2 separate regions of the Homo sapiens genome follow, and region 2 is linked to region 1. A link means that fine-mapping ties the variant in region 1 to the expression of a gene that starts in the linked region. Tissue or cell type: whole blood. Region 1 holds a variant in brackets; the other region holds the start of a gene. All regions are shown on one strand. Distances are from middle to middle.

Evidence for each region. PIP is the estimated chance that this variant, and not a neighbour inherited with it, causes the effect.
Region 2: IRAG1 starts here. The variant in region 1 is fine-mapped to the expression of IRAG1 in whole blood (TOPMed, PIP 0.99).

The regions. Positions count from the first base shown.
Region 1 is chr11:10,603,160-10,611,265 of GRCh38, forward strand. IRAG1 (inositol 1,4,5-triphosphate receptor associated 1) reads right to left here. Exons shown (of 21, transcript NM_130385.4): 11 at 6,569-6,692; 12 at 3,583-3,613; 13 at 1,246-1,386; 14 at 1-92. Among named protein-coding and RNA genes, the nearest start is that of LYVE1, 39 kb to the left of the region's middle. RefSeq lists enhancers at 2,963-3,257, 2,983-3,277. The variant A/C (reference allele first, on the strand shown) is at 3,573.
Region 2 is chr11:10,690,135-10,698,240 of GRCh38, forward strand. IRAG1 (inositol 1,4,5-triphosphate receptor associated 1) reads right to left here and starts at 3,621. Exons shown (of 21, transcript NM_130385.4): 1 at 3,402-3,621. The coding sequence starts at 3,468.

The sequences.
Region 1 (8,106 bases):
CGGGCAGCCAGGCGGTGCAGGACAGCGATGTCCTCCAGCAACTTCTGGTAGGTTTCCCGGTGCTCACAGTGGTGCCAGAGTGAAGCTGAGGACTGAACAGGAGTAGGAGCATCACCTGGGGTCCTCAAATAATGTTATGGACTAAATCAGCAGTCCCCAACCTTTTCGGCCTCAGGGACTGGTTTGGAAGACAATTTTTCCACAAACCTGGTGGGGGCGATGGTTTGGGGATGAAACTCTTCCACCTCTGATCATTAGATTCTTATAAGGAGGGTACAACCTAGATCCTTCGCATGCACAGTTTACAATAGGGTTCGTGACCCTATGGGAATCGAATGCTGCTGCTGATCTGACAGGCGGCGGAGCTCAGGAGGTCATGCTCTCAGGCAGCTCACCTCCTACTGTGCAGCCTGGTTCCTAACAGGCCATGGTTTGGTACCGGTTTGCGGCCTGGCCCAGGGGATGCGGACCACTGGGCTAAATGTCTGTGCCCCCCACAAAGTCATCTGCTGACTTTTGGGGGGACATATCCTAACTCCTCAATGTGATAGTGAAGTGGGGCCTGGGCGAGGTGATTAGGTGAGGAGAGTGGAGCCCCACGAATGGAATTAGTGCTCTTATAAAAGGGACCCCAGAGAGTTCTGTTCTCTTTCCACCATGTAAGATATAATGGAAAGGTGGTAGTCTGCAAGCCAGAGATGGCCCTCACCAGAACCCGACCATGCTGGTGCCCTGATCTTGGCCTTCCAGCCTCCAGAACTATGAGAAATAAATGTTTGCCATTTAAGCCACCCAGTCTAAGGCCCTTTGTTACAGCAATTCAAACTGACTAAGACACACACCAAGCCTAGACTCAGCTCTCATGAAAGCAGCTCTGGGCCCCATCCAGGCTGAGAGAAGTGGCCTCTGCAGGGCCTGGGCCACAGTTTCTTCTGGTGCTTGGAGAAGCCCAATGTGAACACGCTATCCCTGGCGCCTGAAAGTAGGAGTCACACCCAGGCCACCCTGCCCCCTTCTGAGAAGCTCCCAAGGCTTTGGAGGACCTGTCCACAGCCCTGAGGGAACCAGGCCTTTGGGATCTCTGCCTCAGTTCCCCCCAACTCTCTGAGGAACACTGTCAGAGTCTTGGCTCAATTTTTCACTTCAGGAGACTATACTTGGTACCTGAGAGAAGCATGACACCCTGTATGGCCCTTGGGGACAGTCTCTGCTCCAGGGATTCCTCACATCAGGCTCCACAATTACCGTAATGGAAGCTTTGAAGTTTTCCAGTTCTTTCTCAGTGTTCTCCTCTGTCAGGTTGCGTTCCCTTTCAGCCTGGTTAATTCTAGATTCCAGAGTGTAGCTGTCATTTCTAAAGGCCAAGGACAGTTGCACAAACACGTTCTGTTGGGAACAAGGGTGTGAGAGAGGTGCTGGGAGGAGTTACTGCAGAGGACAAGGCTGCAGCTGTGCTCCTTGCACGAGCGTTTTGCAACGGCCCCTGGAACAGCCGCCAAAGCACCAAAGCAGCCATGTGCAAGGGAAACGCTCACTTCACAGGAAACCACAAAAAAGATGGTAAAGCAGGGACCAAGGTCCACGCTAGGCCCTTCCCAGAACCGGAGGTCCAAATGTATTCTACCAAAAAATAAGAAGAGAATAACACTTTGCTTTTTCCTGAATTTTAAGAAAATAACATCCTGTATCTGGGTTTAGATAAACTCAGGCCAGTACAGCTAATTGTGTAAGCATCTGGATTTATGCTGGGATTTATTGCATGAGGGGTTTTGGAGATTTTGCAGGAAAATACTGTATTGAAAGAAACTCCATGTGAGATTTAAGCATTGTTGACGTAAAGCAAACTTCAATCAGCATCTAGCCCGAGTATTCCAAATCCTGTATTGATAGAAGCTTTAAGTAGCTGCCAGGAGATTAAATAAGGCCAGGTATGATTCTGTTCGGTTAAGCTTTCTGGAATAAATAAATGTTTCATGCTAAAATTGCAGCCTGCATGAACAGACTTTGAAAAGATAATATTGGTCATACATGGAATTCCCAGAACAGTAGGAAACTACTAGGGAGAAGAAATAGACAGATGGACCTCACTCAGGAAGGAAGCAATGGTCTTCAATTTTACAGCCATCATCTGCCCTGAGTGGTAGCAGATTTATACCCTGCAGGGTTAGTAACCACAGGGGCTTCTGAAGTTCATGTAACATGGCCCATGGAAGGCAGTCATCTCCAGAAGAATTGAAGGTACAGAATTGACCCAATGATGATGATGAAGGCAATATTGAAAACTACTCCTTATTGAGCATCTACTATATGCCAGCACTGCTTTTCATTCTACAAATTCATGTAATCTCACAATAACCCTCTGGGGTGGGAACTGTTATACCTGTTTATGGGTAAAGAGGCCAAGACCAGAACGGTCATTAACTTGTTCAAGGTGACACGGAGTAACGGAGCCAGGATTTAACCTCAGACTGTCTGATTTGAAAGCCTGTTTTATTTCCACCATGCCGAGAGCTGTGTCCATATACATCTGCGGTCAGCATTTGGACATTAAACAAACCGCCCATGGCCCATCTTCACAAATGTCAGTGGGTAGGCTTAGAGCTCATAGCCCAGTGATAGAAATTTTCTGCCTTACCCGGCCTTGGTCAAGTCTATGAATAATGCTCAATGCTTAATTTTCTATACCTTGATTATCCCCTTAACAGCAGTGTGACACAATGAGTTCTGAATTCAGTGAGAACACTTGGATCTAGGTCTTGGTTTTGCCAACTACAGTATCTAGAAACTTGGTGTGGTTATTTACTCACTCAGTTTTCTCCTTTGTGCTGATTCCTGCTCCACCTGCTTTTCAGAGCTGCTGGTTAGGATCAGCTGAAAGGATGGCTATGCGTGTGTTATAGACTGCAAGTGCAATGCCTGTGTGCAAGTTATAGATACTACCTGTGGTAGATACTTCATACTGTCTGTCTTCCTCTGCTTATCTGGTCCACATCAGCAGTTCTCATTGTCTCACCTCTGATAAGTTCTCTTTGTCCGCTACAGAATGAAATGCAGATTCCCCTCAGCTCACTCACAACCCCGCTGGGACAAGGAGGCCCCAGTGAGGAAACCGGAAGGCTGGATTGCTGACAGCACAGCTTCCCGGCTCCGCTGAGCTGGCATTCTTGTAGCTGAAACCCTGAGGAGGCCAGCCCCCTTTCCCACTAAACTAAAGCTTAGAACTTGAAATCTGACCATTTTTCAGTAATTTTGAAATAAATTTGATTCAATTCTGCAGCCTCCCAGCTGGTTTTGTGTATCTAAGTCGTACATTTAAAGAATATAAACAATCCTTACAGGAATGTAAAATTTCCAACTACCTTCTCCCTTTTGCCCAAATTTGTCAAAATCTTCCATGAACGGACGTGGGAATGGGGATCTCATGGTTCAAGAGGGCTGGTCATGAATGTTCACATTACCCCACAGTCACTCTTTCTCATTTTTGTCTAAAAATGTCAGAGCTAGAGTCTGGAGGAAGAAATGTTTTGAATAAGCCCAGTCAAGCACGGGCACTAAATTTCATAACACACTTG[A/C]GTCACTTACCTCAACTTCCTTTTCAGTGAGTGGAGGGGCACTGTGAAAAAGAAAACACACAATTGAACTGTGTGCAACCTAGTCAATAGACCCAAAGGTGACTCTGAATGACCAGCAGACCATGTGTTTCCAGGGGTGGAGTAAGCTGTGTTGGTGAGAAGGAAAAGATGCAATGTCCCCTTGCCTGTGCTCTGTCACCTGTGAGATACTGACTCTTACGGCACCATGACTATCTCTGTGACTTTGGACAAGTTATTTAATCTCTCTAAGCCCCAGCGTGCTCATCTGCAAAATGGGAATCATATCACCTACCTTGCAGAGGTATTATAAGCACTATATGTACTCATGTATGTATGTGTATGTGTTTGTATGCATAAATATATGGCATCCACACTCAGTGGGCTCTCGGGAAATGTGACCTTGAACTCATAGCCTTGCTGTGAGAAATAAGAAAATGCATGTGATAAGGACTTTATAACTCATACACATCTAAGTTGCCATTATAATTGTTCTGGGGATATCCACCCAGGTCTGCAAAGCCTCACCCTCCTCTGTCTCTGAGGGCTGTGACAAAGGTGCATGCGGGCCAGAGAATAAATGGTAGGAGAGAGTGACCAGGGTTCTTCTCCACAGCAAGAACTTCTGATGGCTAGAATCACAGAGTGGCAAGAAAGCCCCAGCCGACACAGAGGCATCCTTTTGAGCAGCTCCTCGTCTGTGGCGTTCCCACAGCCAGGGCTCTCCAGCTATAGGCAGTCCCTGCATCTGCATGTCCACTCGATGCTGCTGTGGCTGCTGCTCTTGCTGGTAACTAAAGCTGGCCCCATCTGAAGTCCACACAATGTAAATAATGCACAGGCCCTTTCCTGTGCTGGGGCGGGGAGGCCTGGGAGGGGTCCTACCAGCGTCACAGAACTTGGCAACAGAGCATGCCATCAATAAGCTTCTCAGGAAACACAGCTTCCTCTCTTGAACGGGTGTGAAGGGACCCCAAGAGCAAAGGTAGGGGTCAGCCATCTCTGCAGGGGGCTGGTTCTCACCCCTAGGGAATGATATGAGTGCCTTCCTGTCAGGATGAGAAGACCCCATGGCCATGAAGTCAGCGGAGTCCAGAACACGGGACAAACAGCTGCAGGGATGTTTGACACTTACAGTCCTTGTCACAACCCCACCCATCAGGCCCTTGCCTTAACTGTCATCTACAGCATACACATATGATTTAAATGATTTGGCAAAACTTGCCAAGTTTGTTTCTGACTCCTGGGTTTGTTGGGATATTATGTGAAATGCACATATTTTCATAAATTATAAACCAAACATTTTTCTATTTCAATGACTCACATTCTGCTTTTTTGCTGTAGAACACACCCACCTTATTTTTATTTTATTTATTTATTTTTGGGGACAGGGTCTCGCTCTGCTGCCCAGGCTGGAGTGCAGTGGCAGGATCACTGCAGAGGTGGCTTACTACAGCCTTGAACTCCTGGGTTCAAGCAATCCTCCTGCCTCAGCCACCAGAGTAGCTGGGACTATGGGTGCATGCCACTATACCTGGCTAATTTTTTATTTTTATTTTTTGTAGAAACAGAGTTTCACTCTGTTGTCCAGGCTGGTCTTAAACTCTTGGCCTCAAGTGATCCTCTTGCCTTGAGCCTACAAAGTGCTAGGATTACAGGTGTATGAGCCACCACACCCAGTTAGAACATACCCACCTTAAAAAAAAAGTGGGGGTCTGGGGGGAAACTCTGAGGACTCAGAGAAGTATGATTTAGGCAGAGAAGCCACATGGTATGTCTGGTGTCTGATGCAGATAACTGTGCCTTACAAATGGGCATAGGTACCCGGGGGCAGAGCTGTGAGCCTCTAAAAGGACACAGCATCTTTTTTAAGTGACTATTTGTATATCTTCTCTGAAGAAATGTCTATTTAAATCCTTTCCCCATTTTGAAAAATTGGTTATTTATCTTTTTATTGAGTGTAAGCCTTCTTTATATGCTCTAGAAACAAGTTCCTTTTCAGATAAGTGATTTGCAAATATTTCATTCTGTGGGTTGCCTTTCACTTTCTTGACACTGTTTGCAGCACAGAAGTTTTTATTTTGAGGAAGTACTATTTATTTTTAAAATCTTGTCTCTTGTGTTTTTGGTGCCATATCTAAAAAACCCAAAGACATGAAGATTTACTTATATTTTTTCTTTGAAGAGTCTTATAGTGTTCTCTCTGACATTTAGGTCTATGATCCATTATGAGTTAATTTGTGTGTTTTGTGTGAGGTAGGGGTCCAACTTCACTCTTTTGTATGTGGCTATCCAGTTGTCCCAGCACCGTTTGTTAAAATTACAATTTTTTTCCTCTGTAAATCTTACCAAAACCCTTGCATGAGTGGCTTTTTGTCATTTGTTATTTGCACATCTCAAATTATTACTTTATCACAGAGGCCTTTCCTTGACCTCCTACCCAATGCCCCACTCTCATGTCATTCTCTAGATGTGCCCTATTTTATGGTCTTTCTACCAACTTTACTCTTTCAAATCATTCATTTGGTTACTTAAATGTTATTTGTGCTTTGGGAGGCCGAGGTAGAAGGATCACTTGAGGCCAGGAGTTCAAGATTATCTTGGGCAACATAGCAAGACCCTATCTCTACAAAAAAATATTTGAAAACTTAACTAGTCATGGGTAAATGGTGTATCTGGGATTGAAACCCATGTCTCCTGGCTCAAAGCCCATTCTCTGCTGCCATGAGCTTCTGGTGACCCTTATGCCTTCATGAACTGTGCTCACCTAAGAACCCCACCTGGCCTTTGAGTTGAAAACACCCAGCCTGGCCTTTCATTATTCTTTTTGTTTCGAATGCATTATCCCTATCTAGACAATTGGACTTTGGCCCTTCTGGGTTCAAGAATTAAGACTGGTGTTCCTCTGTGTCCCACCTAGAATCCAACACAGGGGCCACTCGGTACAGGGCCTTCTGTAACCCACATCCTGATTTTACCTTCCAGGGAGACTCCTGTGGACCCGCAGTTTGCGCAGCAGCACATCAGAAATATTAGGCATGACATCTAAGCCACTCTTTGACTCTTCTTCCTCAATAGCTGGGGAGAGTTCAGAAGGAAGCCCTGAAAAAAAAGTGCTTACTTATAAAATGTCTCTTTGAAATCACAGTAGTACTGTTGGCAGCTAGCTTCAGGAGCTTTGACATTTATAAGTATCTAGTTCTATGTTAAGGGCTTTTTAATTGTTATCTTACATTATTCTCACAATGAGCTAGAACTTAGTCATCCCATTTCACATGTAGATAAGCCAAGGCTCAGCAAGGTTAAGTCACTTGCTCAAGATTACAGAACTAGCAAATGACATGGCCAGACCTCAAGGTCTACCTGCTTCAAATGTTATGTTCTTCCCTTTGCTTCCCACAGTATTAAGCTGGCAATTGGAAGCTGGTTGGCTCTTTGGCTATAATGTTTGGGAAAAAAACCTGCTCCTTGGCAGGCTTCTCAGGAGACCTGTTGTTCAATTATTCCTCCTCGGATAAATTAAAATGTTCTATATTATGTATCCTACTTAGAAATTAACATCTGATTCCATACCCCATAGATAAGAGATTTTCCAGAGTAAACCTAAGGTTGCTAGATCTTTTACAGATCTCAGAAACATAAATGCCTCCTAGTCAACAGAGACAATGAACAGCTTTTTGTTTTTTAAACTTCTAAAACTATCTTGGGTCTGTGCTTTGAAGACAGAATGAACAAACCAAGTATTCTCTTTTCCATAAATCTTTCTCCTGTTTGAAAACAGCTCCTGTGCCTCTCTAAAGCTTCTCTTCTCCAGACTCTAGCTCCATTTTTCCAACAAGCTCACTGTGCTCCACTGTGGCCCATGGTCTCTAGATACCATCCCATTCCTGCACACATTCTGGTTTGTTGCTGTTACAGAGGCCCAGATGTTCTCTAACAAGATCTTAGCACAGGAAGACTTTGGTAAATGTCCCTGGCATTGATGTTTGTTATTCATGCAGCATAGATTTTGTGTGCCTGACTACGGGCTTACAGTACACTTAGCATTAAGCAAAACTCTCAACCTCTTTAGTTGACCCAAATCAGTTATCCTCATCCTGTATAATGGTTACTTTCCATTTGCATGTAGAACTTCATATTTATCCATGTTTTACTCTTTCTCCTGGATTTTAACCTGGTAGCTTTCCAATCTGCTCAATCATTTTCCAGGATCCTAGGCTAGGCTAGAGACCAGGACTATAGGCATAGTTGTAGCCACCTGAAGAGTTAAGACTGGGAATCATGTGAATAGAAAGAAGTCTCACCAAAGGAGACCATGAAGAGACAAGAGGCTATCTAGTTTGGCTCAAGGTAAAATATGTTTAAATACTTTGAGCTTGCCAGTAAGAGAATGGTAGGCATGGATTCCTTGGTACTCAAGGTAGCCAAGTAAGCTGGAGGATCATCTGTCAGAGATGGGTCAGTCAGCAATTCTTCTTTGGATATGAGATTCAACTAGAAGTTCTCTTAGCTACCT
Region 2 (8,106 bases), 87 kb after region 1:
AATCCCAGACTTTGGGAGGCTGAGGTGGGCTGATCACTTGAGGTCAGGAGTTCGAGACCAGCCTGGGCAACATGACAAAACTCCATCTTTACTAAAAATGTAAAAATTAGCCAGGCATGGTGGTACTCACCTGTAATCCCAGCTACTTGGGAGGCTGAGGCATGAGAATTGCTTGAACCCGGGAGGTGGGGTTGCACCACTGCACTCCAGCCTGGGTGACAGTGCGAGACCCTGTCTAAAAAAAAAAAAAATGTTTCCTGTCCGACCAACTGTCCTCTGCTTTCCACCTCCCTTGGAGAAAGCCCTTGCAGAGAAGGCAGGGCTTGTCCAGGGTCATGGGCGTGAGTTACCTCTGCTAAGACTCTGAATTTGAAGGCCCATTTGTGAGGCTGCCCTGGACTGTCGCCTGAACTCAGAGTCTAGCCTCCAAGGTCCACAGGACTAACATGATATCCCCTTTCCCTCTATTCGTGATTTTCCTGTGATTTGGACTGTGACACTCAGTAACTGCCCCAGGACCTAAGTTACTAACTAGCGGCAGGGTGACATCTAATGCAGGAAGCGCCCGCTTTGGACCAAGGTGGCTTGAGCTGGAGTCCACCACCTACCAGCTGTATGCCTCTCTCCTCATCTCTAACATGAGGCTTAAATTAAATAACAGATCTAGCACAGATCCTGGCACAAAGTAGAAGCTCAATTAATACCAATTTTCTCCCGTTTCCTTTTACATTCACTACCTGAGAACTCAGCTCTCCATCTCCCTCCTCTGACTCAGCTCCCCAAGGGGCAGGGGCAGGGCCAGAGTCTGGGGGCCCCAAGCTCTCTTCTCCCTATCTACCCAGGCCTCTGCTTCTATTCAGTCAGCAAACAATCCCTCTGCTGACCAATAAGCCCCAGAGAGAGCGGCTGAGGGGCAGTCCAGGCTCTGTGAGGTGACCCAGGAGAGGAGGCAGGGTGAGAGAGGTGGGTAACTTCAGGCCCCCACCTTGTGTTCTTTAGGGTCAAACTAGATGAATCTGATCATCAGGCACATGTACAAAATCAACCCAGGGCCCTGTGTAACCAGAACCCACTTTATAAGCATTGTGTCCATTTATTCACAGAAACATGATTGAACCTGAGCACTTCGTGTGCTCCCGGCATTCTGGGTGCTAGACACACAACGGGTGAGGAACGGGATAAGGTCTCCGCCCTTGCAGGGCTCAGTCTGCTCCTCCAGGAGGTGTGGGGTGCTTCTGTCCACCTCTGTTACAAAGACTTAGAGGAGAAAGGCAGGGCTTTTTAGAAAGCTGAGGACCCATCACGTATAGTTCAGCCCATCAGTCAAGGAACCTAGCTTCCTCACACAGACCCACAGAACTCCTCATCCCCAAACCATGAGCCTCCTCAGCCTCCCAGGGATTCAGTTTCAAGTAGGTTTCACATGGCCCTAACTTCCTCACCCAAGATACTATTTAAATTCCCTGCTTTGTCACTTGGTGGCTGGGTGAGCTTGGACGAGTCATTTAACATCCCCTAGCCCCACTGTCCTCACCTGGAGCAGTAAGGTAAAGATACATCCCCCATGGCATTCTGTGAGGGGGCATGTGAAATCCCTCGTGGAAAGCCTCAGATGCACCATGTTGCAAGGGGGCCGGTGATTCCCCCGCTGCACTCTGACATGGGGTCCCAAGCAGACGGGAGCTGACCATGGAGGTCAAGAGCAGAGCCTCCAGAGACCATGGCCTGGGGCTGAGCATCAGCTGTGCAGTCTCTCTGTGCTAAAGTGTCCTCCTCTACAAGACCAGGGTGGAAAGAATGACCCCTGCTTTGTAGAGCTGTGGGAGTCATGAGTTACTGTATGGGAAGGGGAACAGTGTTCAATACATAGTAAGAACCATGTGTTTGCTGTTTATTTTCTTTCAGAAATATATTTATGGGGATAACCAATCATGTAGTAGCAGCTAGCACATGGTTATCCCTCCAAGATGATAAAGGATACAGGAATGCCTCCCTTACCTCCAAGCATAAAGATAGGTGCATCCGCTGTGAATATAAACAGCCACCCACCAAATATGCATGCACACACACACACATACACGCACTATGGAATCATGGACAGTACAAACATGATAATGACAACTGTTTTGTCCATTAGGTCAAAAATCGCAAGACACAATTGGAGGCAGCATCATACCCTGGCATTCACGTCTGTGTTGAGAGGCATGGGCACTGGAGTTAGAGTCATACAAACTCATACAGGGTTTGAGTCCTAGCTCCGCTCCATCTTGGTGGAACGACCTTAGGCAAGTCACTTAACCTGAGTTCCCTCCCCCATAGAACTGTTGGGGTAGGGGAGTGCAGGGGGATGGGCAACTCCACCTGCCTCACTAGCATGTCATCGTCCCTCGGTGGGGGCAATACAATCCTTGGCAGGTCCTGACTCCTTTGGACCCCCAGCCTCACAGTCCCAGGAAGCTTCCTCCTTTTCCCTGCAAAAGACTCTGCTCAGACCAGATTTACTTCCCTGTGCCACCCCAGTGAGCAGCCTGAAGAGTGTTCAGCAGCTGCCGAGCTCTGGGAGGCTGGAGTGCTGGCCAGGGGTCCCAGACCCCGGGCTGCTGTTTACTCAAACTGCAGAGCCTCTATAGCCTTTACAACTGTTTCCTGGGCAGGAGGGAGCAAGACAGCTGGGCCTCTCTCTGGCCTCTGGCTTCCACTGGCTTTTCCTTTGGAAAAAGCCAGTTCAAATGGTGCTCACTCTAGGAATCGCTTCAACTCGGAGCCCTGGAGGTGAGCAGGGCCGGGCACGGGCCGGGCACATACACCCCCTCTAGGGAGCAGGGAAGGGCACAGGCCAGGGGAAGCTGGAGACAAAAGAGGAGACAGGGACAGAGATAAAAACAGGGACTGTGACAAGAACACAGGATGGGAAGGGCAGAGACAGAAATAGAGGCAGGCTTAAGGATCTAGACAGGTCATGCCAGCCCAGGTTCAAGGCAGAGGGGCGTAGGGGGACAGAGAGAGAGACACAGGAAGCACAGAGGGGAGAAAGCTCTGCTTAGCAGACTTGCCAAAGCTGAAGACCCCACTGTTGCCACAAAGGGGCCCACAGGAAAGCTAGGGGTTGCAATCGCCTGTCAGGACCCACATTTTCACCCTGAGCTGTGCACACTTTCCAACGGCAAGCAAAAGGAGCACAATCTAGTTAAGTTAGGACTGGCAAGATTCACTTCTGATTTAAAACTTAAGACAGCAACAATAAAGATACTCAGCTGAAATGCCACCCAACAAAGCCAGCTCCCCTGGAAAGTTAAAGTTTAGCACCCCCATCCCAGCACCCTGTACCTTTAAGGAAGAGAAGGTTCCCTCCGCTTCCCAGCCGAAGAGGCAGGTTATTCTAGGATATAGGGGAGGCTTACCTAAAACTGAGTTATTCTCCTTTCCTCCTCTGGCCAGCCTCTCTTCACTCTGGGGAGCTTTTACCATTTAAGGTCAATGTTACATCTGGCTCCGGAGCTCAGAGCCGAGAAGCCTCTGGCTGCAGAACCTCGGCCGCACGCCTCCTCTGAGAGGGGCTGGGACTTAGAGCCGAGAGCTCCTCTGGGAGCCCCACTCCGGCCTGGCTCGGGGGATAATGGCAGGGAAAGCCGACCAGCTGGCCTCAGGGCTCAGGGCAGGCTGGGCCTTTGGGGCAGTCGCTCACCCTGGGCCCCTCCGATGGGTATCCACACAGCAGATGGCAGTCCCCATGGCAACTCGTGCCACTGGACACTGTCCTGGCCGGACGGGAACAAAGGGACCCTGCAGATCTCCCCACCCGCCTGGAGCCTCCAGCAAGCATGTGAGCCTGGAGAAGACCCTGGGCCAGCGCCAAGAGAAACTGGGAATGGTTCCTGTCCTGGGGATTCGGGGGCAGGGGCTGCTCCCACTGCGTTAAACTCTTGGGATTGCCAGAGAGAATGGCCTGGGAGATTCAGCTACTCCCAGACTTGGCACCAGCCCCAGGGATGTCAACCTTGCTCCTCCATTAAACAGCCTGTGGTCTTAACATCGTGGAGCCTCAGTCTCCTCATCTCTAAAGTGGAAATAATAATGATAATGCCCGACTCACTAGGTAGTCAGGGGATTAAATGAGATGTTAGTCAAGTGTTTAACACACTGCCAGCATCTCATAAGAGCTAGATCAGTATGAATGAGCTTCCTGCCCCTGCCCAGGAAATCCATACCCTGTCCATACACACTCTTCACCTGCCTTGGGTATAGGGCCTACCCAAGGCCAGGATCATGGAGCTCCAAGCTGGGGGCAAGCCACATGGGGACTTCAGCCCCTTCTGTGGTTAGAGCAGCACAGAGAAACCCTAGGTAAAGTTGCTAGATAAATTACAGGACACCCATTTAAATTTGGATTTCAGATAAACACAGGACATACTTGTATTAAAGACTGTTATTTATCTGAAATTCAAATTTAATTAGTCATCCTCTATTTTTGTTTGATAAATCCGGGAACCCTAGCTTTTGGCCATCATTAGCCACCCAGAAAACATTCAGTAGTCATGGTAGAGAGCACTAGGGATTGGAGCTCCCAGGCCTATGGCCTCAAGCTCTCCTGGCAAACACAGTCCTTATGCTCAGCTCCTGGCCACAGATCAGTTGTGCAGCAGTGGCAGATGCTCTCCACTGAGCCTGGCCCACTGAGCCTCCATCCCAGCACCTTCCTCAGGCATGTGGTTCTCAGGAAGTCCTGTCTCTTCTGTGTGGTTGTTGTAAGAGAGATCACTAACAGGGGTGCAGCGCATGAAGTCCGCTACCCTCATCAATAATTGTTTTTTGTAAATGAAACCAGAGGAGGCTGTCTTGGGTACTAGCCATGCTTTCTCTCAAGTGTCCACACCTGTCCACATGGAGGTACAGGCTCCCCCCACAACCCCCGTCCCCCACAAAGCCACATGGTGGTAACTACTAGAATTGCAAGTATATGGTCTAGAAGGAACTGACCAAACTCTTCAGTGCTGTTTCTCCAACTTCAATGTGCATTAGAACCCCCAAGTGTGAAGCTCCTTGGGTTCCTCTTTCAGAAATTCTAATTCTATGGATCTGACATAGACCCAGAAATCTGCATTTTAGTGAAGGCCCTTGGGTGATTCTCATGTACTTGGTCCAAGGATCCCACATTAGGGAATGTCGCTTCAAAGGTTGATCTTGTGAGTCCAGCAGCAGGCACTACAGGGACAATCAAAATCAGAAGTTGAAATGGAACTTAGGGCTGGCTGTGTGTGTGTGTGTGTGTGTGTGTGTGTGTGTGTGAGAGAGAGAGAGAGAGAGTTCAAAATCATATATCATATTGAGTACCTACTATATTCCTAGCATTAGATTAGATGATTTACATAAAAGCACTCTATCCTCACAAGTGTCTACGCCTTTCCTTCAAAAGGAAACTGAGGCTGGAAGAAGTAAAACAACTTGCTTGATGTTCCACAGCCAGTAAATAAGTGACAGCACTGAGATGTGAATTCAGGTGGTCTGTCCCTAAAGCTCTGTCCTCTTTATCATGCTGCCTCCGTTTCAGCCAGGGTTTCTGAACCCAGGGTTCACGGATAACCTTCAGGGGTCTCTGAGCCAACTGAAATTGCATGTAAGCCACTACGTGGTTTATGTTTCTCTTGGGTAAAGACCCACAGCTTTCACCACACAAAGGCATCACCAAATAACTTTTTAATCATTGCATTAGCAATACCATTTTATAAAACACATGACTTGTCAGTGTGTAAAAATGGAACAAGTTCTATAGAGGACAACTTAGCACTATCAAGATTATACCCTTTGACCCGATTCCACTTCTAGGAATTTATTCTATAAACACACTCCCACACTTGGGAAACGACAAACGAACAAGATTATTCATTGCAGCATTATTTACAAAAGCAAAAGGATTGGAAACAACATAAATGTCTAGCAACTGGGGCCATAACAGAAGATGGAGTGCAGCCACAACAAAGGGTGAGGAAGCTCTTGGTGTACTGATCTGAAAAGATTCCAAGATACATTAAGTAGAAAAACTAAAATAACAGTGTCTATCAAATGCTACTATTTGAGTGAAAAAGAGTGTGTGTGTGTGTGTGTACATATTGTAATATGTACATATATACACGCAAATACATATATATACTTGCATTCATGTATACACACAAGTTCATATGTGAGTATGCATATCATCTCTAAAATTAGCACAAGAAATGAATAACATTTAGATTAGTGGCCAATGGGGAATAAAACTAAGTGGCTGGGGTAAAGACTGACCATGGTTACACCTTATTGATACATTTAAAGTTTTGAATCATATGAGCAAAACATGTGTTTACATTAATAAATAATAACAAAACAAAAGCATTGCTGTAAACAGGGATTTACTCAATTCATCTTCCAGCACTGCTTCCCCCAAGTGTCAAAGGGTATTGTCATGATCCTGACTAAAGGTTATTATTTTTTTTTACTTCTTACTTTGGAATAATTATAGATACACAGGAAGTTACTAAAATAGTACAAAGACTCCTACATACCGTTTACCCAGCTTCCCCAACGGAGACATCTTACATCGGTGTTGTACAGTATATTTCAAAGCCAGGAAATTGGCACTGGGATGCTACTGTTAACTAGACTACACATCTTATCCTAAAGGTTATTTTTAAAAGCATAAATTTCTCACAGCTCACTCATCCATTTAAAAATGCTCATTGGGCACCTTTAGTGTGCCAGACATCATGTGGGACAATGGGATGTGGCAGGAACACTTCAGACCCATCCCTCCCTTGTGTCAGGTAGACCAGTGAAGGCGATCCCTTTACTCCACTGGGAATAGCGTCATGGAGGCCTGGGATCCAGCAACGCACAAGGAGTGCTGACCACAGTTCTAAAAAAGGAACTGTGTCCCTTGCTATCATGGAGCTTCACAGCTTGCCCAAAAGCTGACTTTTAATCCTTAAAAGAGCATGAGCAATTACTCTGGCTATATTTATCCTTGTTCCTGGAGCCACACAGGGATTTGGCCTCGCTCTCCCAAAATCTTCAGCTTCTCACTCATTCCCATCAGAGACAGTCATGTGTCCTCCGCCTAAAAGCAGGGGCCCAGCAGAGGCAGACTGGCACATAGCTCGGGGAGGCTCTCCCAACAGGCCATTTAATCCAAGGCCAGGGAAGAAGTTTTAGAGTCTCAGGCAAAAGACATATCCTTGCACCAAGGGGAGCCAAGCAAGGAAAAACAGCTTCTTGCCAAGAATGCTGCCAGCTCTGCGATCACTTGCTCGGTTGACTTCACTGGGTGTTTTGACTTCCCTACCCCTTTTAGACTTAGGAACTCTGTGATATGCTCAGCACTCAGCCCTGGATGAGTGAGTGAGCAAATAAGAGACCACATCTCTAGGAACTGCACCCAGGCAACAATGACAGGTATCATTTACTGAACATGGTGTCAGGCACTGTCACCCACTTTACATACTGAACATGGTGCCCAGCACTGTCAGCCACTTTACATATACGGTAGAGTTCATCCTCACCAAATCCATGTGGTGTGGAGCTTCTCACCCTCACATCCTAGATGGGGAAACAGATGCAGGGCAGTCAAGATGCCTGCCGATGTCTTGCAGGGCATAAACCCAGATCTCTCTGACTTTAGAATTCCCGGGTGTCAGGTTTGAGACTACAAACTGGGAACACAGGTGTCGCTCCCTGTCCCACAACCCCATTAAAATGATAGCAAAGAACTCCTTAAAAAGGAATAAATTCTTAGCCACAGAGGAATGGAGGGAGAGGGCAGGCATGAGTGGACATATTTCTGGAAGCTGGGAAGGGCATAGAAGAGAGGTGCCTAATGAGGCAGGGAGAAGGAAGCTTCGGCCTAGCCCTAGACGACATCTAGAGAGGGAGGTCACCAGCTTTGAAACCCCTGAGAGGCTCTGGACTTGAAAAGCCAGGTGTGACAAGGACAGGAATGAGTTATGGAGCCAAACAGAGAGGGGATGAATTAAAGTTTATGGGCAGAAGGGACAGAAAGGGAATTAAATCAAGAAGCTTTTGTACTAGATTTGGACTAGATGCCATCAGGCTAAAGTCAAAAAGAACTATAAACAA